4 separate regions of the Homo sapiens genome follow, and regions 1, 2 and 3 are each reported to be linked to region 4. Evidence: microRNA targets listed by miRTarBase, many of them from high-throughput screens and not tested one by one. Region 4 holds a microRNA gene; each other region holds the end of a gene's coding sequence.
What was found. Region 4 holds the annotated microRNA hsa-miR-4659b-5p (UUGCCAUGUCUAAGAAGAA, at 2,131-2,149, opposite strand). A microRNA usually pairs through its seed, bases 2 to 8, with sites in the 3' UTR of a target mRNA and lowers its output. Matches are read on the target gene's strand: a 7mer-m8 pairs with bases 2 to 8, a 7mer-A1 pairs with bases 2 to 7 and ends in A, and an 8mer does both.

Region 1: the mRNA of RRAGC is a reported target of hsa-miR-4659b-5p. Seed matches in the 3' UTR shown: 7mer-A1 at 720-726.
Region 2: miRTarBase lists MVK as a target of hsa-miR-4659b-5p. Seed matches in the 3' UTR shown: 7mer-A1 at 4,893-4,899.
Region 3: miRTarBase lists ADCY7 as a target of hsa-miR-4659b-5p. Seed matches in the 3' UTR shown: 8mer at 4,041-4,048.

Annotation. Positions count from the first base shown.
Region 1 is chr1:38,834,141-38,840,072 of GRCh38, reverse strand. It overlaps RRAGC (Ras related GTP binding C), which reads left to right. Exons shown (of 7, transcript NM_022157.4): 7 at 369-1,875. The coding sequence ends at 520. Among named protein-coding and RNA genes, the nearest start is that of RRAGC, 23 kb to the left of the region's middle.
Region 2 is chr12:109,596,346-109,602,126 of GRCh38, reverse strand. MVK (mevalonate kinase) reads right to left here. Exons shown (of 11, transcript NM_000431.4): 11 at 4,002-5,701. The coding sequence ends at 5,550. Among named protein-coding and RNA genes, the nearest start is that of MVK, 25 kb to the right of the region's middle. RefSeq lists an enhancer at 2,910-3,599.
Region 3 is chr16:50,313,204-50,319,142 of GRCh38, forward strand. It overlaps ADCY7 (adenylate cyclase 7), which reads left to right. Exons shown (of 26, transcript NM_001114.5): 23 at 755-859; 24 at 1,089-1,203; 25 at 1,811-1,935; 26 at 2,156-4,932. The coding sequence ends at 2,302. It overlaps BRD7 (bromodomain containing 7), which reads right to left. Exons shown (of 17, transcript NM_013263.5): 17 at 2,754-5,939. Among named protein-coding and RNA genes, the nearest start is that of MIR6771, 24 kb to the left of the region's middle. RefSeq lists enhancers at 229-1,428, 5,891-5,939.
Region 4 is chr8:6,743,083-6,749,194 of GRCh38, forward strand. It overlaps MIR4659B (microRNA 4659b), which reads right to left and starts at 2,158; the gene lies at 2,086-2,158. AGPAT5 (1-acylglycerol-3-phosphate O-acyltransferase 5) reads left to right here. Exons shown (of 8, transcript NM_018361.5): 6 at 4,588-4,746. It overlaps MIR4659A (microRNA 4659a), which reads left to right and starts at 2,082; the gene lies at 2,082-2,162. RefSeq lists enhancers at 1,373-1,652, 1,683-1,762, 3,375-3,424, 4,026-4,320, 5,243-5,392 and a silencer at 3,185-3,234.

The DNA of each region.
Region 1 (5,932 bases), not on the chromosome of region 4:
AGGTTCACGCCATTCTCTTGCCTCAGCCTCCTGAGTAGCTGGTACTACAGGTGCCCGCCACCATGCCCGGCTAATTTTTTTTGTATTTTTAGTAGAGACGGGGTTTCACCGTGTTAGCCAGGATGGTCTTGATCTCCTGACCTTGTGATCTGCCCGCCTCGGCCTCCCAAAGTGCTGGGGTTACAGGCGTGAGCCACTGCACCTGACCGATGACCAGCTGTTCTTACGATTGAAGAAGTTGCTATCTAGTTTGGAGGCTTAAGAATTTCCAACCAGTGTTTATCCGAGTTATTTTTGGCTGCAAACCCAAATATAAAATTTCACAATTGACAATTCAGGAGGCATTCTTTTCTTTTTCCTTCCTGCAGGTTTAATAGACTACAACTTCCACTGTTTCCGAAAAGCTATTCATGAGGTTTTTGAGGTGGGTGTGACTTCTCACAGGAGCTGTGGTCACCAGACTAGTGCCTCCAGTCTGAAAGCGCTGACACACAATGGCACGCCACGAAACGCCATCTAGTCTGAATCCCAGCGTCGGGGCTCTGTGCCAGCTTACTCTTCACTCCAGGGTCGGATGCCACGTGCTACAGGACATGGGAGCTGCTGCTTGTGGGAATCTGGTGCCTGTTCCACTAGAGACAAGGGGTAGAGTTTCTCATTTGGATGAAAACCCCTTCAACTGGTGGTGTACAACTGAAGCTACTATATCTTTTTTGAAAATGGCAAAAAAAAAAAAAAAAAATTCTGGAGACCACAGAACTCAAGTGTGTGTTTCTCCTCTTTTGGGTCCCCTTTAAGTAGTTGGGATATTTTGGACCTGGAGATAACACCAGTTACCCATCCTTACCAGGGAATGTTGCCATCAATTCCAGTTGAAAATAATAGAAAAGACTGAATTTTTATATGCTTCACTTAGGCTTTCATTTGAGTAGACTCTAAAAATTCTGCCTTGCTTAAGTTCTAACACTGCCTCTCAGATTTCAGTTTTGGACATTGCACAACTAAGACCTTTTAAATGCATTTGCTTGCTAACTCGGAAGACACATAGTCTGCAGCAAGACATTCCTATATTGAAGAAATGAGAGAAAATTTTATGCTGCATCAGGTGGAGAGCAAGGCTCAACGGTGGTTGCATTAGTTCCCTCGGAAGTATTGAAAAAACTTTGAAATGGAAGAAAATTTTTGCACCTATGTTCTGAGTACCAGATGTCTGGGTTCTTTCTTCTGCATTAGATAAATGATCATGCTCAGTGTAACAAAGGGAATTAAAAGTTTTCCCACAGTCCCCTTCTAGGGGAGAAACTCATTGTGTCACTGAAATGTTTAGCTTACTTTAATCTTGATATCAGCCTCTACAGACCTTTTATTCTAAGCTATCGAGCTTCTTGATTGCATTTGGTTGACCACGAGTGACCCTAAGGCATTGGGGGACTGTCCACTGGGAGTTGGAGTGAGCACGTGGTGCTGCAACAGGCATTGTTTTACATACTTTGTCTCTAGTATTCTGACACCAAGTGTCAACTGTGGTACTTTCTTTGCCTAGGATATGAATTCATAATTGTTGCTTTTGTTGATGGTTGATACCCTTTCCATTGATTTAAACCTAACACATTATTTCTATTCCACATGCCCAGTAGACATATATTCCAAAGCCACTGGACCACTTGAGTACATAAGTGCCACTGTTTAATGCAATATGTATATTCAGGTCTGTAAAGCTAACAGTGTGACTTGGAGTGCTTCCTGCAGGTGATTCTGACTTGAGTATTTACATGGACCATGGTGATATCCAAAAGAAAAATGCTTTTTATATTTATAGATTATTTCATTGAACTATATATGAAATGGGTATCAATAAATGTATTTACTCCAAAATCAGCGTTTCTCCTTGCCTGAGGTATGGAGGGTGGTGGCGGAACGTTGGGTTGTCCCACTTTGCCGTTTTCTCATCCATTTCTTTTTCTTTTGCTGCTTCCTGTGGTTAATGTTTCTTATGTGTCAGAGCTTCAGGTTCTATCCCGATGTGGGAATTTCATGGCCTTGTGTCTAGGTATCTCCCCTGGCCCATTTCTGCTCTAGGGTAGTAAATCTAAGCTCAGGTGAAAATGTTTTTGGTTGGGTGTTTCATATACACAAATCTCACACATGGTGGGGAGTATCCTGGTCCTGGCATCATTAATGTGTTAATCCAACCTAAGAAGGAGTGAGGAGATGAGTGAAGTAAAACACACTTAAACAATTGTACCGATTCCAGCTTGTTTTCTGTTTCCTCCAGTTGCTGACATACTCATTGACTCACTCTTAAATGTCAGTTAAATAATTGTTTGTCTATACAAACAGGTTGGGTCTAAACTAATCAGAGAAAAATAGACATTAGTTTATCAGTGGGAGGAAGACAGATTGAAAGATCTTTAAATTTTGTAATTGGACTACTTTAGAAGCTGTTTTAATTCTGAAATGGAAATCACAGAAACAGCTTGAAAAAACTCTTGTGAAACTATCTAATCCTGTCTTCTTTTTCAGATTTTGGAAACAGGTGCAGAGGGATAAGGAGCCTTGTTGAGGCTGTAGCTAGGAAGACTGTATAACTTAAATTCCAGATACTGTTGAGAGTGGAAGGGATGCCATTAGTAAGGATGCCTGAGCAGCAGGTGTGAACTGGCACTGTTGAGGGTACACTAAGGGTGGCCAGCCTCATCATAGATCTAATTAGTGGCAAAACAGGGCTTGTCCTCCAGGCCTGGCAGCCCAGCGTGGCATGCCTTTACTTGCAGCCTCCGGCCTTAGGCTCCCATTGGTTAAATGGAGAGAATATTTCAAGATGCATGTGGTACATAGATGCCCAATAAATGTTATGTTTTCCTGTTACTGAAAATTATAAATTCAGTCAGTGATTAAGGAGAAGTCTTTAATTGTGAAATAGAAAGTAAATGTGAAAGGAGACAACTCAGGATGAAGAAAACGGAGAATAAAATGATCAGGGTTTTGCTTGAAATGTTTTGCATCCCAGTGGATGTTGATCTCTACCAGTCTACTTCAAAGAGAACTAGGACAGATGGTTAAAAAATACCTTAAAGTCTTAAGCAGCAAGGTATTTTAGCTATTTCACATACCACCACCTCTCCCATTCACATTCATATATACACACACATACATATATGCATGTATATAATATCTCAATATAGAATGCTGGAGGTATTTGGGAGTTAATTTACCTTCTACATCTTGAGTTCTGTGTGGAGAAATGATTTAAAAGATAAAATCAAGCATTGTTGGAGAAAGCACTGTGTGTGAATTTTGGACTTTGGTAAGGATCTCTATCCTTTGTTTTGCAAATGCTGAAAGCCCTTCCAGTTATTCAAAAGAGATTATTAGTACCACTGTTTTCCATCTAAGCTAGTAAGTAAGCTAGTTAGTTTAAATGCTCCCCCTGTCCCTCTTGGGGGTCCCAAAGGAACATAGTCTGTAAGGGGAATGTGGACAGCAGCTGGGCATAACTGGAGAGGTTTTTTTTTTTTTTTTTTTTTTGAGACAAAATTTCGCTCTTGTCACCCAGGCGGCTGGAGTGCAATGGCGCAATCTTGGCTCACCGCAACATCCACCTCCCGGATTCAAGCGATTCTCCTGCCTCAGGCTCCTGAGTAGCTGGGATTACAGGCATGCGCCACCACACCCGGCTAATTTTGTATTTTTTCGGTAGAGATGGGGTTTCTCCATTTTGGCCAGGCTGGTCTTGAACTCCCGACCTCAGGTGATCCACCTGCCTCGGCCTCCCAAAGTGCTGGGATTACAGGCATGAGCCACCGTGCCAGGTGAGTGTTATTTGTTAATAGTAACTTCCCGGAACGGTACATTAGGATACTTTGGATACAAATAACATCCAAGAAGGACTTGAAGGGAAAGCCAACCACCACTAATTATTTTAGGTGGTTTACGTGTATTACCTTGTAATCTTCACAACTCCTTGGGAAGTAGGTGTTATATTCCTATGTTACAGAAGGGGAAATAGATACAGAACGGCTCAATTGTAAAGTGGTAGAGTTAGAATGGGAACCCATGCAGTTTGATTCCATAACCTGCAGCCGCAAACTACCACTCGACCTTCCTTTCCTAGTAGGGAGGGCGAGTTTGCTCACTGGTGTGTTTTGAAAGAAAGAAAACAACAACAACAACAAAAGGATTCTATAGTTAAGTTTTGGAAACTTGCAATCTGTAGTCTCTCTTTGGAGATTTTCTACATACAGTCAAATATGAAAGGTTCTGAGAAGACCTGCAATAAGGAAGCCTGTTTACCTTGGTTTATATCCCATGTTCCTAGGTTTATTTGACACATTAAAGAAATGCATATTCATTCAATCAGTGTGTAATAAATTCACAGTTTTGAAATGTTTTCATGAGATTGGAAGTATGATTTTTACACTGTTTTCCAAGTATCTTAATACAACCATCACCAAACTGGTTTCTTGGATGGCTAGTTCAACACCTGTCTTTGTAGGTAGTGAGCAGGAAGCATATTTAACTACTCTGTAACATTTCCTCAGTATCTTTACTCATTTAAGCCAGATGTGCTGCGAAGCACAGGCAGCTTGTCTACCTTTTCAGCCTGTTTGGTGATGGTGTCCAAGTCCTTAGTGTATGGCCTCTAGGTGGCAGTGTTGTATTATCTAAACACAGCTTCTTGCTTTCTGGCTTCTGCATGTGTGCTCTGTCCTGAAAGTTTGTATTGCCCGTATCACCTAAGTGCACACCTAACTTAGAGATCCAAAAAATTCCTGAAGTATTTTCCCTAGGATAACATTCAGGACTGATTTGAGACATCTTATTGGAAGTGGAGCAGTTGATGATTTCCACTTTTTAGTGAGGGGTTGGGTAAAACGAAGGTCATTAACATCATTTGCTTTATGTATTACTAGTTACAAAAGGGCCTTAAGACAGCTGTAGCCACATTCCTATAGCAGGCAGAACTTCTTGCTTCCTCTTCTAATCCATCTGTTGTAAATGTGTGTGGTCTTCAAGACTCCATGGAAAGAAATGCCACATATTTGAATTAAAATATCTGTTTTCACCACTTTTCTTTGTGTCAAATGAGGTTTGTTGAAATTATTTCACACTTATGCTTGAGAGATAAAATATGGCAAAGGAAAAGGCTGCAGAACCTTATCCTTCCATGGGTACTTATTTTTCCTTTTTTTTTTTTTTTTGAGACAAGGTCTTGCTCTGTCATACAGGCTGGAGTGCAGTGGCACGATCATAGCTCCCTGCGACCTCAACCTCCCAGGCTCAAGCGATCCTCCTGCCTCAGCCTCCCGAATAGCTGGGACTACAGGCATGCACCACCATGCCTGGCTAATTTTCTTTTTAATGTAGAGATGAGGGTCTCTCCATGTTGCCCAGGCTGGTCTCAGACTCCTGGGATCAGGCAATCCTCCACTGCCTCAGCTTCCCAAAGTGCTGGGATTACAGGTGTGAGTCATTGCTCCCAGCTTGTTTTTCTTTCTTCTAGAGCCATGTAATTGCTTCACAATCCCCAGCTGTGACTTTGCTCTGCAAAGACAAATTTTAGTGTAAAAAGAACTAGATACACCAGTGCATCTTCAGACCTGTTTAAAATATAATTGAGAAAATTGCAAAGGACTGTTATAATGAGGAACTGAATGGCAGGAAACTAGTTGTTCCTCCCCACACTTGAAAATGCCAGTTACTACCAACGTGTTGCCCGCAAAGTGCTGCAACTTCCACTTTAAGATTCTTACACTTTAAAATGCATCTTTTGAACTGATCAAATATATATATTTGTTATTGTGTGTTTTGTTTTGAGATGGAGTCTCACTCTGTTGCCCAGGCTGGAGTGCAGTGGCGTGATCTCGGCTCACTGCAACCTCCACCTCCTGGATTCAAGTAGTTCTCCTGCCTCAGCCTTCTGAGTAGCTGG
Region 2 (5,781 bases), not on the chromosome of region 4:
TGAAACATGGGCCGGGAGGGGGTCTCCCTAAAACCTGCAAAATCCTCCATTCCACATCACATCTGGCCCCAGGATTTTGGACAAAGAATTGTGGTTCTGTTGTACCTGGTCTGCAGGGTTGCTGTGGGAAGTAAGTGGAATGATGCCTGAGGGGTTTAGCACCCTGCCTGGGATGTTACATTTGAGGAAACTGAGGCCGAGTTGGGGGTACAGAGGAGTCCCGGCTGGAAGTCACGCAGCCAGCAGGTGCAGAAGCTGGGCCTGAAGACGGATCTCTGGATTGCAAGTGCTTTTCCTGTGACAACCCTGCCGCATGGAGAAAACCAAATGGCAAGGAAGAGGACAAGGTGGCTCACTGTGTGACCTTAGGCAATCTCTTGCCCTCTCTGAGTCTTGGTCTCCGCATTCACAGCAAACGAGGTGATGGACTGTGTGATCTCCAAGGGTCCTCCTGACCCTGACACTTTTGGATTCAAGCAACTGAAGCATTCATTGGGAGACCATTGCCCTTGTCTGTTTCAGTTTTGAGGACATGAGGTGTGAGGTGTGAGGTTCGGCCCAGTGCCAGGTTTTCCTTGGATATGGGGAGGTGGGGGCTCCGGGCACAGTGCTGTGAGACCACACATCATGTTCTTTGGCAGGTTGCTCCCTTTGCCTGTTTGTTGTGTAGGTTGGGGGTCTGAGGTGTTCACAGCCAGGGCCAAGCGGGCAGCAGGGGTGAGCTGGGCCAGCACCGCTGGGGCAGATGTGACAACTCAGTTCTGTCAATTAGGTATGGTGGGGAGAGGGAGCTCGGAGAGGTCACCAGTCACCTCCCCGGGGAGAGTCTAGACACGGGCTAAGAGCAGGGCCCTGAAGTTACACAGAACTGCGTGCAAATCCCACTCTGCCACGTGACCCTGGGCAAGTCACTTCCCTACTCTGGGCCTCAGTTTACTCACCAACAGAATGGGGATAAGCACGGTAATTAGCTCAATGGACTGAAATGATTCACAGGGATAAAGCACACAAAGCACTTAGCACCATGCTGAGCACATCGTAGGTGCTCAGTAAAGGGTTCAAGACCTCCCAAAGCCATGTGGAGGGGCTGGATTCTGAATGACCAGTGTAGAAGACACAGCATTCTGCAGGATGATCCGCTGGGTCTCTTAAGCAAGTCATATCATGGAGAAAAATAGGTATGAGTGTGTGTGTGTGTGTGTGTGTGTGTAGGGCTGCTGTGCTAGATTAAAAGAGAAGCCAGGGCTGTAACAGCCAGGTATGTGGTATTAGACAGGGTGCCGGACACCTGGCCCAACTGGAGGAAATGTGACTATAGCCTGGGCATTAGAGATGAAACATATTGACAGAGAAAGGTGACTGGAAACCAAAAAGGTAGGTAACAAAACAGCATGTACAGTATGATCTCACTTTATCGAACAGCATGAACACACACACACACACACACACACACAGAGGGAAAGGTGGCAGCTGTTCACAGGGGTAATCTCTGTATGGTAAAAACACAGTGCTTTGATGTGATTTTTGCTAATCTGTATTTTCTTTCTACAGTGTATTTACACTGTTTCTGTAATAGTAAAAATATTATAATTTGAGAACTAAAGAGCTCAGACTAGGAACCAGAGCTCCTGGCCTCAAATCCAGCTCTCTGCCCCTTCCTAGAAGACAGTAGGTGCTAAGAGACAGCCAAAGAACTTGTCCAAAATTAGCTGGAAACCAGGAAGGGCTGGGGAAGGAAGCACCTGCGAGGTGCGGGCCCCTGAGCCAGGTGTCTTCCAAAGGGCGCTAGCTGAGGAAACAAGGAGGAAAACAGCCGTGGAGGAGAAAGGAGCTGGCTGGGCCAAGCACAAGCGAAGGGCAGGGCCGGCCCCCCACCACGCTTGCTGACCTGGAGCCAGCCAGCCAACGCGACTGGCTGCCAGCAGGCCACAGAAACCTTGGTGAGGAAAGACTCCTCACCAGGCCAAGTGTGGTGGCTCATGCCTGTAATCCCAGCACTTTGGGAGGCCGAGGTGGGCAGATCATTTGAGGTCAGGAGTTCGAGACCAGCCTGGCCAACGTGGCGGAAACCCTGTCTCTACTAAAAATACAAAAATTACCCAGGCGTGGTGGCACACACCTGTAATCCCAGCTACTTGGGAGGCTGAGGCGGGAGAATCACTTGAACCTGGGAAGCAGAGGTTGCAGAGAGCCAAGATGGCGCCACTGCACTCCAGCCTGGGCAACAGAGTGAGACTGTCTAAAAATAAATAAAAGGACTCCTCACTGACAGAGACGACATCAGTGCAACCATAGCAGCTACTCTGTCTGGAAAGAACCACAGTATTTCCTGCCTGCCTCCCAAAGTGAGACCCTTGCCAGAACCAGGGAAATTCTCTGAGAACTTCAGGCTGCAGACCCTGGGAGCGGCTCCAGCTTATGACCTGAAAGGCACTGCTGTTCCCCTCGCAAAGAAGGTGTCAGTGCTATGTGACCGCCTCTTTGCAGAGGAAGCAGGGAGGTGGGAAAGCCGGTGGGCCTTAGGTGTGTTTCTCCAACAGCGACCCAAGGGGTCTCAACCTAGGGGCTTTGGACCATCTGGGCAGGGCGCCTTGAGCCAGCTCTGTGCACCATTCTGAAGTTTTGGGGCTCTGGAAGACACCCTTATCTCTCAGCATAAGACAGTTATAATAATGAGTATTTATTGAGCACTTACCGTGTGCCACGCACTGTGTCAAGGGCCTTCTGTATATTTTCTCATTGATCCCCACGAAACCTCCATAAGGTGGGTATTAGTGAATCCCACTTTCCCGATGAGGAAGCTGTGGCCTCCAGAGGTAAGCTGTCTTGCCCAAGGTCACATGGCCAGGGGGTGGGCAGGGCTGAAGTGCTCAACCACCACAATGGCGTGCAGAGATGACCCTGGGGTCATCCAGTTCGGTATCTTCAGCCCTGGCTGCATTTTCTTATTTTTTAAAAATATTTTTGAGACGGGGTCTCACTCTGTCATCCAGGCTGGAGTGCAGTGGCACCATCATAGCTCACTGCAGCCTCCAACTCCTGGGCTCAGGCGATCCTCCTGCCTCAGCGTCCTGAGTAGCTGGGACTACAGGTGTGCAGCACCATGTGGTGCTTGGTCACACGTTAGAATCACCTGGGAGCTTTTAAAAGATGTCTTTTTAAAAAGATACCGCTGAGACAGATTAACTCAGAATATCTGGGGTGGAGTCAGGAATTCGTGGGTCCTTAGGTGGTTCCGAGGTGCAGCTCTGAGAGCGAGAACCACTGCAATAGGCAATGAGAAGGGGTGACAGCCGCAAGTGCCAACTGTCTACAAGGTAGCCAGGAGTGTGACACCAGGCCCATATGGTGGCCGCAGGGGTGGCTGGGTTGAAAGGTTGCTCTGGCCAAAGCGCACCGGCAGCTGCTTCACTGGAGCAAGAGTGTTGAGCTGGCCCCTGCCCCAGGAGTGACATCCTGTCCCCAGGGAATGAGAGAGAGAGGGCCTCAAGGAGCAGACGGGCTCTGGGGGTCTCAGCCTCTGTCCCCTGCACCCATCTCACAGCTGCCGCGGACATCTATGGAAGCCTGGGGAGGCTCCCAGGCCCACCTCCTAAAGGCTGGAGGCTGGCTGTCAGCCAGCGCCATCACTGAGGGCACAGCAGCCTCTGGCCTGGTTGTTCATTAAAATCGCGTGGGGAGGAAAACATGCAGGTCCGAGCCCCACCCCGGTCAAATACATCCGAATCCAGAAAAACGAGCCTGAGCACAGAAAGCTAAAAAATCGCAGTGAGCCTGCACACAGAGCCGCACCCAGCAGACACACGTAGGGGCTAAGAGCAGGCTCTGGAGTCCATTTGAATCCGGCCTCAGATGCTGATGAGCTGTGTGGACTTGCACCAGTTACTCGATCTCTCTGACCTTTGGTTTCCTGGTCTGTAAAGCGGGGATGAGACTAGCAATGACACTGAGGTCGGGGCAGAGATGAGAAGGGGCGATGCGTAAACACGCCTAGTCCACAGTGAGCGTTCAGTATTAATTAGTATTACTGCTTTATGCGTTGTGTTTTGAAGGGAAGGGGCAGGGAACAGCCATCAGTGATCTGGGGCCATTTCTACAAGTTAAGCTGGGGTAGGCGTCCTCCCTTCACTCTCACGTTCCCAGCAGTGATCCCAGGCCGGGCCCAAGGCTGGCGTGGGGGTGGAGCTCGGCTCCTGCTCCTCTCACCCTGCAGGAAGACAACAGCAGGGAAGGCCGCCAGCTGCCCCCTAGTGGCCAAGGGCAGACGCGCACTGAATCGCTTTCACCTCATCCTGAAATCCCTGCGCCGGCCCCCACCTTTCCACTCGGCCTCTTTGCAGGTCCGTGGGTCCCAGAGGTTCTGGCTGGCAAGGCACCAACTACAAGGGTTTCCTGATGGCTAATGGCATTTCGGAAAGCACCAAGCTGACTGCAATATAAAGTTCAAATAGGGCCGGTGGGGGGCGGGGGTGGGGAGTGCCAGGCACCCGGGCCAGAACATTTGAGTCTGTTTTCTCCATCCAGCCAGTTCATTTCAGAAAGGAAGGCGCGCCCCAGGAGCGATGGCAGGTTCTGCTTTCCTGTCTTACACAGGTCTGTGCTCTCGTGGGTGCTTGTGATTCTGGAGCTAGGAAGCTCAACTTCTCCCTCCGCAGCAGCAGCCTAGAGTTGTGCTGATGGACTGAGAGCCGTGTCCCAGTCCCTCTCCAGCAAGGGCCATCTGGGAAAAGCCACCTCATCCCCAAGACGCACAACAAAGTGACCCCAAACCCTATTTCCCTCCATTGCTGAAGAGCTCCATGGAGGAAACAGCTGGAGAGGGGACAGGGACAGAGGGAGGTGCTGGTGGCCTGGAGTCTCTACTGTTGACACAAAATCTTTTTATTCCCCATTTGCCATCTTTTCCACAAACCTCTCAGGTACAGATCGGAAGAAAGTGCATATAAACCCTGCCTTATTTAACCAGGCCCACCGCCTCCGGGACAGCCCCTGGGGGAGCCCCATCCCGCTAGGTAGAAGGGAAGGCCACACCAAGTGCTGAGTGAGCCACCCAGACAGCAGGTGCTCTGGGAGGGAGGGGCGACAAGGGGTAGGGGAAGGCTTCCTGGAGGAGGGAGAGGCCTGGCCCTGAGAGACAGGGGGCGGTCCCTGAAAAGGGAGAGAGAAGGCACACTTCTCCGGGAACCAGGCCCCAGCACCTGAGCATTGGACCCAGGCGGCCAGGAAGAACACAGGCCAAGGCGGGGGCCTGAAGCAGATGGGACTGTGGGAGCTTCAGGGAAGCAGCCCTTCTCGCCTCAGGTCTGGAGTCTCAGAGGACCCTCCTAGGCCTCCTGCTCGGCTGGCTCCAGAGGATGCAGAGGGCAGACCATGCCTCCCTAGGTCCCACCGCTGGGACTGCAGAGCTTGGCTGGCATCGCCAAGCGGCTGGGGCCTCTCCAGCAGTGTCAGGAGCTGGGCGCTCGCTGGCCAGCACAGAGTCGAACTGCAGCCCCCAGAATAATCCAGAAAGGGGCATCTGGGTGGGGCTGCAGTGTCGTGGGCTCCTCTCAGAGGCCATCCAGGGCTTGCTGGACTCGGCTGTCCAGGGAGGTGGCTGAGTGGATGGAGACGCCGGGGGCACCGATGCTGGTTTCCAAGCAGTCAAAGCCACAGCTGGTCAGGGCCTGCTTCGTGGCCTCCACTTCTGGCTGCTCCAGCCCTGCGGGGAGGGAAGGCAGGTCACCCTTGACAACTCTCCGCTCCGTGGGAGAAGCTCATCATATTCAAGGCAAAAGCCCA
Region 3 (5,939 bases), not on the chromosome of region 4:
GCTAGGAGTTCGAGACCAGCCTGGCCAACATGGCGAAACCCTGTCTCTACTGAAAATACAAAAAATTACAAGCTGGGCTTGGGGCGCACACCTGTAATCCCAGCTACTTGGGAGGCTGAGGCAGGAGAATCGCTTGAACCTGGGAGGCGGTTGCAGTGAGCTGGGATCACGCCACTGCACTACAGCCTGGGCAACAGTACACAACTCTGTCTCAAACAACAACAACAACAACAAAAAAAAAACGACGTGGCCCGCCTGGGGGGAACATACATTACACAGAATATAAAGGTACACATTTCTTTTTCATTCTGTTTTATGCAGCAAATAATTCGTTGGCATCTTCTCTGTGATGGGCAGCTTGCTAAGATTAGACTCAGGCCCCTTAGCTTCATTTCCAACTAAGCCCACGCTATCAACCAAGCCAAACAGAGGAAATCAGTTTGGGTTGAATTCTTTGCTGGAGACAAAGAATCTACATTCCTGTGTAGATAATGCTGTGTTTGCTCTGTGCAGACACAGATGGAAGGGAAGAGGGAGACAGTGTGGGGACGGAGACAACAGGAAGAGCAGGAGCCGCCAAGGGCCATGTCCTCACCATGCTTAGTCATGCGCTCAGCTGGCAGGGCAGCCATGAGACGTGTGTGCGAGAGGCGGCGATGGGTGGAGGGAACCCCACACCCTTCCTGAGAAGCAGGGGCAGCCTGGCTGCGGCTATGGAGTGGCGGCTGCTTCACCGCTTCCTTCTTGCCTGCAGCTCCTACTGAAGCCCAAGTTCAGCGGCGTGGAGAAGATCAAGACCATCGGCAGCACGTACATGGCAGCTGCAGGGCTCAGCGTCGCCTCAGGGCACGAGAACCAGGTACTCAAGCCCAAGAGGTGAAATTCAGCTGACTGTCCTCACTTAAAGGTGACCTGTCACCTTACTTAAAGGGTGTGCCCTTATCTCGTCCTGGGGGAGGGGCACAGGTACTTGTAGGGCTCAGCCAGGATTTTAGTGGTGGGGATCCTCAACAAGAGTGGCGCGCCAGGGCCCACTAGGTCTGGGGGCTCTGGAGATGCAAGGATCTGACCCACAGCCTGTCCCGCAGGAGCTGGAGCGGCAGCATGCCCACATTGGTGTCATGGTGGAGTTCAGCATCGCCCTGATGAGTAAGCTGGACGGCATCAACAGGCACTCCTTCAACTCCTTCCGCCTCCGCGTCGGTGAGCCCGGGTGATGGAGCGGGGTGGGGAGCCCCTGCCTCTAGGCCAGTCCACCCAGTCTGTGTGGCACAGCTGCACCTCGCCATCTATTATGAAAGGTTTTAGAAATCCCTCTGATCTGACAAGCTCAGCAGTTGGACAATTATTCTGATGTTTTGCATATAGTTAGCATATAGTTACCATTGAGAGTTTTAATAATACGTAACTACAGAAAATGGAGAACCAAAATTATTGTCTGTAAACAGGTGACCTTAAAATATAGAGAAGGAAGCAAAGTTACTAAACCTAAATAGTTGCGGGCCTGCGCTCAAAGCCAGGCCTTTGTTAATACTTTTAACAAAGTATTCTTTGTTAAAAGAGAGATTAGCAGATACAAGTGTTAACATCAAACCCAGACTTCTGAGTCTGAAAAAGAGCTGGCCGGGGAATGCCCTCCTCATACCCCAAGCCCGACTGCAACGCAGTGACTCTGGGAAGCAACCCAGCCTTCACTCTAGTTGTTTTGTCCCCGCATCCTGTGCTGGGGTATGGATTCTCTGGCCTCCTCTAAGGGCAGAAGCTTGAGGCTTTGCCTGCACGCTTGGGTAACTGTAAACATCATCTTCAGGCATAAACCATGGGCCTGTGATTGCTGGAGTGATTGGGGCCCGAAAACCTCAGTATGACATCTGGGGAAACACTGTCAATGTGGCCAGCCGAATGGAAAGCACTGGAGAACTTGGGAAAATCCAGGTAAAGACCTATTGGGGAAGCAGTTGACTAAGGGGAAAAGATCTTCCCCAGAGGTGAGGGGACTTGGACTTAAGAGCTGCTGTCTCACCCAGCAGCCATGGTTCTAGCTATCACACTCTCCAGGGAAGGCAGACTGCATGCCTGGGCAGTCTCTATCTGTCCCTACCATGACAGGTGTTCTTCCCGCCTCTGAAGACAACAGGTCTCTCTTCCTTTTCAGGTTACCGAGGAGACCTGCACCATCCTCCAGGGCCTCGGGTACTCTTGTGAATGCCGTGGCCTGATCAACGTCAAAGGCAAAGGCGAGCTGAGGACTTACTTTGTCTGTACGGACACTGCCAAGTTTCAGGGGCTGGGGCTGAACTGAGGGCTCCTGCTGGATTCCGAAAAGGCCGGGAAGCCAGTCTCCTTCCCTGAAGCAAGCCCAGGAGAAGACTCTCCGCCCCACGCCAATCCCAAAGGCATGCAGATGGCTGTGCATGTTGGCTTCTTTGGACCTGCACTGGAGGATTTCTCAGACACATGCACCAGATTCTGGCTCGAAGCAGCCACTGAGCCATAATGCGCAGGGGAGGCCAGAAGCTCTGTGCCTGGTCTGTAACAGTTTCCAGGCCAGCTGGAGAATGTTCACTGGTTCGGGGCTGACTTTGAGATCTTTGTTCCCTGAGGTGCCAGGCAGGCAACTTTAGCACATGATGAAAACAGACTTCCACCTCAGTGGCCTGTGGGCACGCACAAGTGAGGTCTGTTTTTCTAGACACCAAGGGGGAGTAAGCTGAGCTGTCTAGCACGGATTGGAGACTCCCTCTCCCTGGTGGGCCTGGCAATGACAGCATTTCTCACAGAGGCATTCTGGTAAATGAAGCTGAAAGGGGTGTTTTACATCTGTAAACGGTTTCAAACAGGTAGAGAGAAAAACACCACAATTAACACTGTTACTTTTTGCCTTGTCTGGCATGTTTGTTTTAAATGAATACATTAATGGGGTTTTTATCCTTTTGAATGACTTTTCAGACACTAGACATAAATCTCTTCCCTCCAGTGTATGCTCTGCCTTTTTAACCACTGACATGTAAGGAGGACTACTGTCTAGCATCAGCTTATGGGGTCAGCTGGCTGTGGGGATAGAGTCCTGAGGAATGTGGTCACAGCAAGAAGGCGGGGAGCAGCAGAGCCTTGCCTTTGAATGAGGCAGCTTGTGAGGCAAGCATTCTGGAGAGAGGTGCTTTGAAAGTAAGGTGCGGCCTTTCACCTCTTCCTTGATTACTCACACATCTTTGCGTTCTCCCCTGCCGTCCTTCAACTGTATCTTACTTTTCTTACCAGAAAGGAATGGAGTCTGTTTAGAGACAACTTGGACAACCTGTGAGTGCATCTCTTCTTTCCTTTAGTCTTCACAGCTAACTCTGGAGAGCTTCAAAACTAGAAGGATCTACTCCGCATGGGTGCATGCAGAGGCTCCTGGATCTGGGAAGCCCGCCCCCTCACAAATGCTGAGCCGTTCTTGCTCTGAAACTGCGTGAGTCAAGGCAAATGCAAAAAGCCAGGTTTTGGGGATGTGTCTTACTGTGCTTCAACTTCCCAAGGAATTGAAAGTCAACCTAACTGTAACAACAGGGTGAGAAATGACCAAACTGCCCGTGACTTTTTCTGAATGGACTTCATAACCGGAAGACTTAACCGGTGGCCTCATCACCAGAGCATCGCCAGGATTTCTAATGCACTCAGTTTCCCTACATAGCAGGGATTCTTAGCTAGGTGTCCCCATGAACCCCGTAAAGTTCTACACAAAGTCTTGCATACAGGAGCCTTTACAAGATGATTATACAGGGTTGCAGATTGGGTGACTGACCAGACTTGTTGGGGTCCTGGGATGAGTTGCCCCGGGCTGCAAATTAAGAGTACAGCTAAGTGCGGGGGTGGCGGTGGAGGGAACGAAAATTGAACCTGTCTGCCTGTGCTGTGTCGTGTGGCTTTATCAGCCCGAGGAAGGGCAGGTGTATTCTAATTTGCACAAAGGTGCTGGGTAGACTAGTGGCAGCTCTCATGTGCTGCACATAAGTGGAATCAGTATGAATAGAAGAACTTGCTGTATAAAGGAATTTCATGGCAACAATGCTGGTAAGGGCAATTAGCCTCGCTTAAGTTGCCTTTTTTACACACCAAAACTTTTTACATGAAGGGCTGGTTTCACATGAATACTATACTGAAATCTGTGCTCTCAAGATCTAGCAGTGACCAGGGCTGCCCGGCGGGGGCTCTCCTGGCAAGTCAGGAAGGTTTCTGTTGCTAATATAACATAGAAACACATTAGTGCACTGGGCCTCTCTGAGGTCAGCATATTTGTACTCTTGGAATATTTGTTTTTTTCTTCAGTAACAACAGAAACCCCAGTTGGGAGTTTAACAAATAACTGACTACCACTCACTCATGCATTTTTATTTCCAATTAAAGCAAAGCACTGTGCTGTGCTCAGATAATAATAGTTTGTAAGTAAAAGTTTTTAGTTTTCAGTGTTCAGGTTATAGAATATAACTGACCATAAAAATTACCTGCAGGTATTTTCTTTTTATGAACTTGTTTTTAAATTACCAAGTAATTACTGGTGTCATTTTGTTTTATGACAGACACACGTATCTAACAAACAAACAAACAGTGACCTTCTCCATGGGTCAAGGACTTCCTTACAATTTCTCCTGAGTTAACTTTTGTGAAAATAATACCTAAGGTTTTCTGGCTTATTGAGGAAATTTCCTAACAAACAAACAAACAAACAAACAGAAGAGAAGATCATTAACCACTGTATACTTTGTGTATATAATAGGTCAGTGTAAAGAAATATGATTTGAGGTGGTGCATGCAAGTAACTAGGGTTTATTCTATATAATGAATATTTATAGATCTGTAACATTTGTTTCAAAATGCTGTTTCATTTTTATAAAGTACCAGTGTTTAGCTGCTTTTTATACATTAAATTAGCAATTTGAAAAACTCAAATATCTGAAGGTATTTTATTTTCGTGGTCCTCATGAACTCACTAGAGATTAAAAGTAGACTCAAACAACTTGAAAATTTGACTCTTTTAGCATAAGATTTTAAGTCTTTTGAGGGAATTAATTTTCCTTTACCCTATTTGTTCTTCCTAAATACTAATTAATTTTCAAAGTCAGGAAAATAATAGAAATCAAATGGCTTCCTGCCTGGGTGATTTATAGAAGGATTGTATAAGGGCCTTCAAACTTAATTTGTTCACTGAACAAGGCTATCTATCTATCTATCTCCATCCTGATTTTTTTCCCTTGTGTATAACAGGTTCTATACCGATTCAGCAAAATCACCATTTATCTCAGCTTGCTGATAAAAGGGGGCCATGAATCTTGTGGTCTCCTACTTAGAGTTCAACTCCTTGGGTACTTGACCTTTGTATTTCAGATAAACAGTAAGTAAAGTAGAAATGTCACCTTTTGGTAATCTGGTAATTCCCTGATCTATTCAAGGATGACTTAGTTTATCTTATTTGGCTTATTACTTTGCTATAGTACTAAGTAACTCCTCTTTCTTTAAAAAACGGAAAAAACCAAAAAAGAACACTAGCCATGTGACAGTGCTATAAAACTCCCAGTGTGCTTTTGTCAGGGGTGGGTGGGAGGTGCCTAATTACCCATACAAGGGCATCATTCCCACTGGGTATGCAGGGGCAGAACCACAGTAGTAAATTCTAAAATTATTTCAAGTATGTTCGTATAACGGAAAATCTCACTGGATGGGGCCGTTTTAAGAACGCTTCTTAGTGATGATCCTGTCTGTGGGACATAAGGAAGAAGCATTGGAAGGCACTATTTTGAAAGAATGCTGCACAGGTATGGCAACAGCCCCAAGCACATTCCTTCCTCACGAGTCCCAGGTCCAGCTTTATTACCTAATACAAGTCCAACCTCTGGAACATCCAAATTCGCTGTTCCAAAGTTTAATTAAAAACACAATTTACAAATATTTAATATCTT
Region 4 (6,112 bases):
TCTCTCCCTAGACTTCTGTGGGGCTGTTCTCCATTATCCTCCCAACTCTCTGGCGATTACTTCCTAGCCTCCTTTCCAGCCTCTTTCTGCTTCATTTCTCCCTGCTACATGTGTTATTTCCAGTGTCAGGTTTTGGTGTTTGATTAATTTCACTTTTTGTTTCTCATGGTGGCCTTCCTCTAAATCCATGGCTTTAGCCATCGTTTCCTTGACTGCTGATGACTCGCAAAAGCTTCCTCCCCTCCATGTCTCTCTGCCTAACTCTGGACCCATTTGTACAATTGTCCATTAGAGAGCTTCGCTTGACTGGCCCAAAAGGATGTCTCAAACTCAGCATATTGAAGATAGAATTTATCCTTCCATGCATACACTCATATTTCTTGTCTTGGTAACTCCATCATTCAGTTTTTTTGCCTAAGTTTTATTCACAAAAAGAACAAATTGATAGCAGTTGCATACCTCTTATAGGAAACTTAGACATGGAGGAAGAAGCTGTTCAGATGGGGTCCTGCAGAAGTGCAGGCACTGTGGTAATATTTAAACTTTTCTCAGCTGTTCGAAGGGTTTTGTTTTAACTAATTTTCCTTAGACTTGTTTTAGGTATTTGGCTTTCTAATGGTTATAAGGGATGTGGAATTAAATGTATCTTAATCTGCCACCTGGACCCATTAAAGTAAGCCCCTATGGTGGTTTTTTTTTTTTAATTGCCATGGTTAAAACCATAGTTGCTAGCGAAGGTGACATACTTAAGCTTTTTGAACTCTCTTAAAAGAAAACAGAAATTTAATGATGTGTCTATAATGGCAAACCAGATACCTAGAATTTCCATGTTATTCATAGGGTGAATAACACTGGCGATTGTAGAGATTTGAGAGTTCTTTCAAAACAGGAGAACAAAGGGAATAAGCTACAAAGCAATTTTTTTCTTTGTAGACTTAACTGAATAAAAATTATTTTTATGTCTCAAACATCATATGAACAAATTTAGTTGGCAAATGGCAAGCTAATAATATTTTATAATATAGGATATTAATATACTTAATATTACAAAAGTGCTTCATAATTAGAAAAGACATAAACTAGAAAAATGGGAAAAGGGCATGAATAAGAAATTCAAGAGATACAAATGACCCACACACTTGAACAAATGTTTATTCTTTCTCATAATCAAAGAAGTAGAAATTAAATGAATACTTTGAAGCCAACTTCTGAGAAAGCATAGCAAACAAGAAAGCTAGTGCTCAGCTTTGTGTGGTAACGGCACTCTCGCTCTTAAGAAGGTGTGTTTGCTCCCTGTGGCTGCTCTCAGGCAGGGCCACAAACTTGGTGGCTTAAAACACCACAGATTTCTTCTCTTACATTTGAGAAGTCTGAAATGGGTCTTACTCAGCTGAAATCAAGGTGTTGGCAGGGCTGCAGTCCTTTGTGGAGGCTTGGGGGGATCTTGTTCTCCTGTACGGGGTCCTGTGCTTGGTTCGGGGTCCTGTGCTTGGTCTGGGATCCTGTGCTTGGTTCGAGGTCCTGTGCTGGGTCCAGTGCTCTGCTTTTACCACCTTGAAGTTCATCTGGAAATGGCACTGGCTCGCCCACACCATATAGCTGACTCTGGTTCTCCCTCCTCCTCACTCGCTCTAAACCTGTGTTTTTGGCTGATTTCTAATCTCTCTTTCCTTGGCCCTTCTGCAGCTTGCAGGGCCTTCTGCAGCTCTTGTCTGCCCCAGCCCCGGGGTCTGCCCATCCCAGTGCTGGGCTGTTCTGTTCCTGCCCTGCCTTTCCTCAGCCCTTGGCAACCCTGTTTGTTTTCTCCCTTCCTTAGCAGTGGAGAACATCGTAAGATCAATGCTGACTGCCTTCTGCAGCCAAGCCAGGCCATTTCATTTCAGCCGAGCCAAGTCTGTGTGGAGCAGTTCTTTTATTTTTCTCCTTTTGACTACCTCATGGTTTTCACGGATTTTTGTTCTCTTCACATTCAAGGATTTTTTGCTTTCAGAAAGTTATATTTCTCTGGAAAGAGTGCACCCAATATCCCTTTTGATTTCAAAATCTTAATGTGGAGTCTCTTGACTTGGATTTCTTTGGAAGAAACTGCTGAAGCTGCCATGTCTAAGAAGAAAACTTTGGAGAAAAATTTTCTTCTTAGACATGGCAACGTCAACAGTTTCTAAGCTCTTGATTCCGTCTACCCTGTCTCCATCGTTGCCTCAGTCATCTGCCTTACTTCTCTGCAGGGGTTTCTCCCAGCTTGCAAATGTACTCCAATTCTGAAATAACTAAGTCTATAGCTGTGCAAAGAGAAGTCTGGGCCCCTTGCTTTCTTGTGTTTGACTCCATCCACTCTCCAGAAATGAATCCCACTTCTCACTTAACCACTGACCTCCAAAGCATCGTATCATTTGTGTCAGTTGTCATATTTGTTAACTTTCACATAACTTTTGACATTATTTATACCTTTATAACCAGGAAATAATTTTAACTTTATTGTAGAAATAAACAATGGAGTATAATTTTTCTTGTTGAAGATAAATATCACCTCCTCTTCCTTTAAACATCTCTTCCCTTTGTTTTTGTATTACATTGGTTTCCCCCCTTTTTTTATTTCCTGGGTTGTCGTATTCCCTGTTATTATTTTTACCTTTTTTTTTTTAATGTGGATGTTTCCGGAGTCTGTATTTCTTGCCTTTTCATCTTCTGCCCTTTATTATTCTCAGCCACTGCCATTACTTCAGTTATCCATTCCCATGGTTTCCACATGCTTAGCTTCGGTTGATTCTTGCCATTTTACAGACCATATTTCCAACTACTTCTAGAATGTTTTGTTCCTTCAGCCTCAGTATGCCCAATTTGAACTCATGTTCTCTCTCCCCCTTCTTTCTTCCTTCTTTCTTTCGCTCTCTCTCCCTTCCTTCTTTTCTTTCCCTCCCTCCCTTTCTTCCTTCCCTCACTCGTTCTCTCTTGCTTGCTTGCTTTCTCTCCTCTCTCTCTTTTCTTTCTGCATTCTTCTCCCTCCCTCTCTTCCTTCTCTCCCCCACTCCCCAACTTCCAGGCTAAAGCAGTCCTCCTGAGTAGTTAGGACTACAGACATACACGTGCCACCGCGCCCGGCTCCGTGTTCTCTTTGTTTCCCTGCCTCCTGCTCTTCCACTTATCTTTGCATGGCAGGTGGGTGCACGCAGGCATGCTCTGCATGTCTTCCTCTTGGCCATTCCCCTTCTAGTTATGGTGTGGCTTTATCTACGCGTTCTGGAGCAGAAGCCTAGTCACAAAGCTATTTTTTTAAAACATTCATGATAATTCATTTCCTTTTATGTTTTAAAAATACTAGCTTTCTGTCTTTATTTCCTTACTAACTTACTTGGATGCCAGTAATTAGTTGTTTTAGTGAACACCACAGAGTGATATTTTGAAACTTTGGACTTCATAAAGTTGGATGAGCTCCAGTAGCAAAGAAGGAAGTGTTAACTAGTTTAACTGACAAATAAATGCTTCCCAGCTTGGTGTGCGATTGAGATTTTTGTTGCAAGTTTGTGAATCAATTTAACTGCCCCTGCCCTGGGGACTAAAGTCAGATACGTGCTTGTGGGAATCTTTGTCTTTCCCACACCACCCTGCATTTTAAAACCTCTTGTGTGGGACAGTCCCACCATGTAATAGCTGTTCTTCCTTACTCAGCTACTTTCCCTCCAGAGAGGCCAGTAGAAAATCTAGACTAGTTTTTTATAGTCTATTTTCATGTCACTTATTGAGAGCTACTGTTTTCTGTTAAATTGTCAGTAAATATTTTAATCAAGGAAAAGGGAGGTAATAGGAAGGAGAGAAGAACAAATCCTTAACCCTAGTAGGAACCTAATGAATGGGATTTGTTCTGGATAATTGCAGTAGTCCCCCAGCTAAAGAACCTTTTAAAAATATGTCAGATATACCCAAGAGGATTGAAATCGTATGTTCATACAAAAGCTTGTTCACCTGCAGCCTTCATATGCAATTCCTATGAATGTTCATAGCAGCATTATTCATAATAGCCAAAGTATGGATGCAACCCAAATGTCCATGAAGCAATTAATAGGTAAACAAAATGTGATCTGTTCACACAGTGGAATACTAACTATTCAGCCATAAAAAGGAATGAAGCACTGAGTCCTGCAGCCACACAGATGAACCTCAGATCCATGCTGAGCGAAAGAAGCCAGAAACAGGAGGCCATGTGCTGTGTGACTGTATTTCTAGGAAATCTTGAGTCACCATGGGCAAGATGCTATCACCTTTGTTCAGTGGCCAGAAGCGAGGGCACTAATATTTACCCTTGCCGGGGTCTACTAGATTGAAGCGTTTCCGCTAGGCCATAAACTTCCAACACGGTGACTTGTACATGTAGATATTTGATCAATATATAGCAAATGAATATTGATTTAAACAGAAAAAGGCAAGTGAGAGTGCTTTCTAAACTTAGAGCCCTAAATATATGAGGTTGTGGAATTAATAGATTCTGTTGTGTGTGTTTGAGGGAATTTAAAAATAATTTAGATGTTAAACAGTATATTGTGGAGGTGTTTTGTAACTAATTAATGACGGCACTGAATTGACTTCTAGGCCTTGCAGTATTAAAACATGTGCTAACACCACGAATAAAGGCAACTCACGTTGCTTTTGATTGCATGAAGAATTATTTAGATGCAATTTATGATGTTACGGTGGTTTATGAAGGGAAAGACGATGGAGGGCAGCGAAGAGAGTCACCGACCATGACGGGTAAGTGTGTTCACGCACCTGAAATGCCTGTACACGGTATATACAGTGCACATGTTTATGTAGAATTCAGTTTTACAAAGTAGGTTAAGTGTACTTTTTTCCTTCATTACATTTACCCGGTATATTTTTCAAGATGTTATTAAGATGTAACAGTGGAGATTTCATTAGTCCTGCAAAGTGTGGTATTTCTTGGCTGTCGTGTGAGTCCTGTGGACTCACCAATTATCATTAATCCAGCCTCTTTCTACTCAAAGTTCACACTTAAAAGGAAAGCTCTGTAAAAGGGAGGAAGACGTGAAGAAGGAGCACGCCCGGCAGTACTGAGTGCACGTTATTAGTCAGTGCTGCCCTTTTGCTGTATTTTTCGTAAAATATTTATTAAATTTGGGTGTCATTGTGACAAGAAGAAATGCAGTTAAGTGTGACCTTTTTTTTTCCCCAAACATGTTAGGTTTTAAGAACCTTTGAGCTATTGTCAGATATAACCAGAAAAAAATAGAATTTTAAGTGAGCAGGATAACTTAGTTAAACTAACCAAACATAGTGTTAGCTGTTAGAGAAATGTAAACATGGAAATAGGCAAACAGGGAAGTGTGTGGAGTTTCTGTTTCCTTTTCAAAATATCTGTTTGAGCTGGGGTTGAGAGAGAACACTAGGCTTCATGGGGTTTTTTTGTTTTTCGTTTTTTGTTTTGAGACAAGAGTTTCGCTCTGTCGCCCAGGCTGGAGTGCAGTGGCGCAATCTTGGCTCACTGCAACCTCCGCCTCCCACGTTCACACGATTCTCCTGCCTCAGCCTCCTGAGTAGCTGGAACTACATGCGTGTGCCACCATGCATGACTAATATTTGTATTTTTAGTAGATATGCGATTTCACCTTGTTGGCCAGGCTGGTCTCAAACTCCTTACCTCAGGTGATCCACGCACCTCGGCCTCCCAAATGAGCTTTGTGTTTTTACCTCATCAGCTGTTTGGGGTTGAGCCACTATGTATGTCAGTGTGCTTGTATCAGTAGGATCTACTGAGGGCAGATGTTCAAAATATGAGCCTCCAGCACGTTTTACATGGAAACCCTCACCTGAAGCATTCGTCTGAAGTTGATGTGCCTTGGAAATTTTATAGAGTAATATTTTTAACTACAACAAAACATTTATAAAAGTAGACATTATTAAAGCATTCAGAAGTGAGCAAGGATAGAAATTATTCTGCCCAACCTTACACGTAGGCCTTCTAGACGTAGTACTGTGCACCGTTACATTATCTAACACTGTCTGTGTGTCATCTTTGGATGTTAGGGATTTTTCCAAAGTTCAGTGAGATTATAGTTGTCAAATGATTAGTCTGTTAAATAATGATAAGATGAGGGTC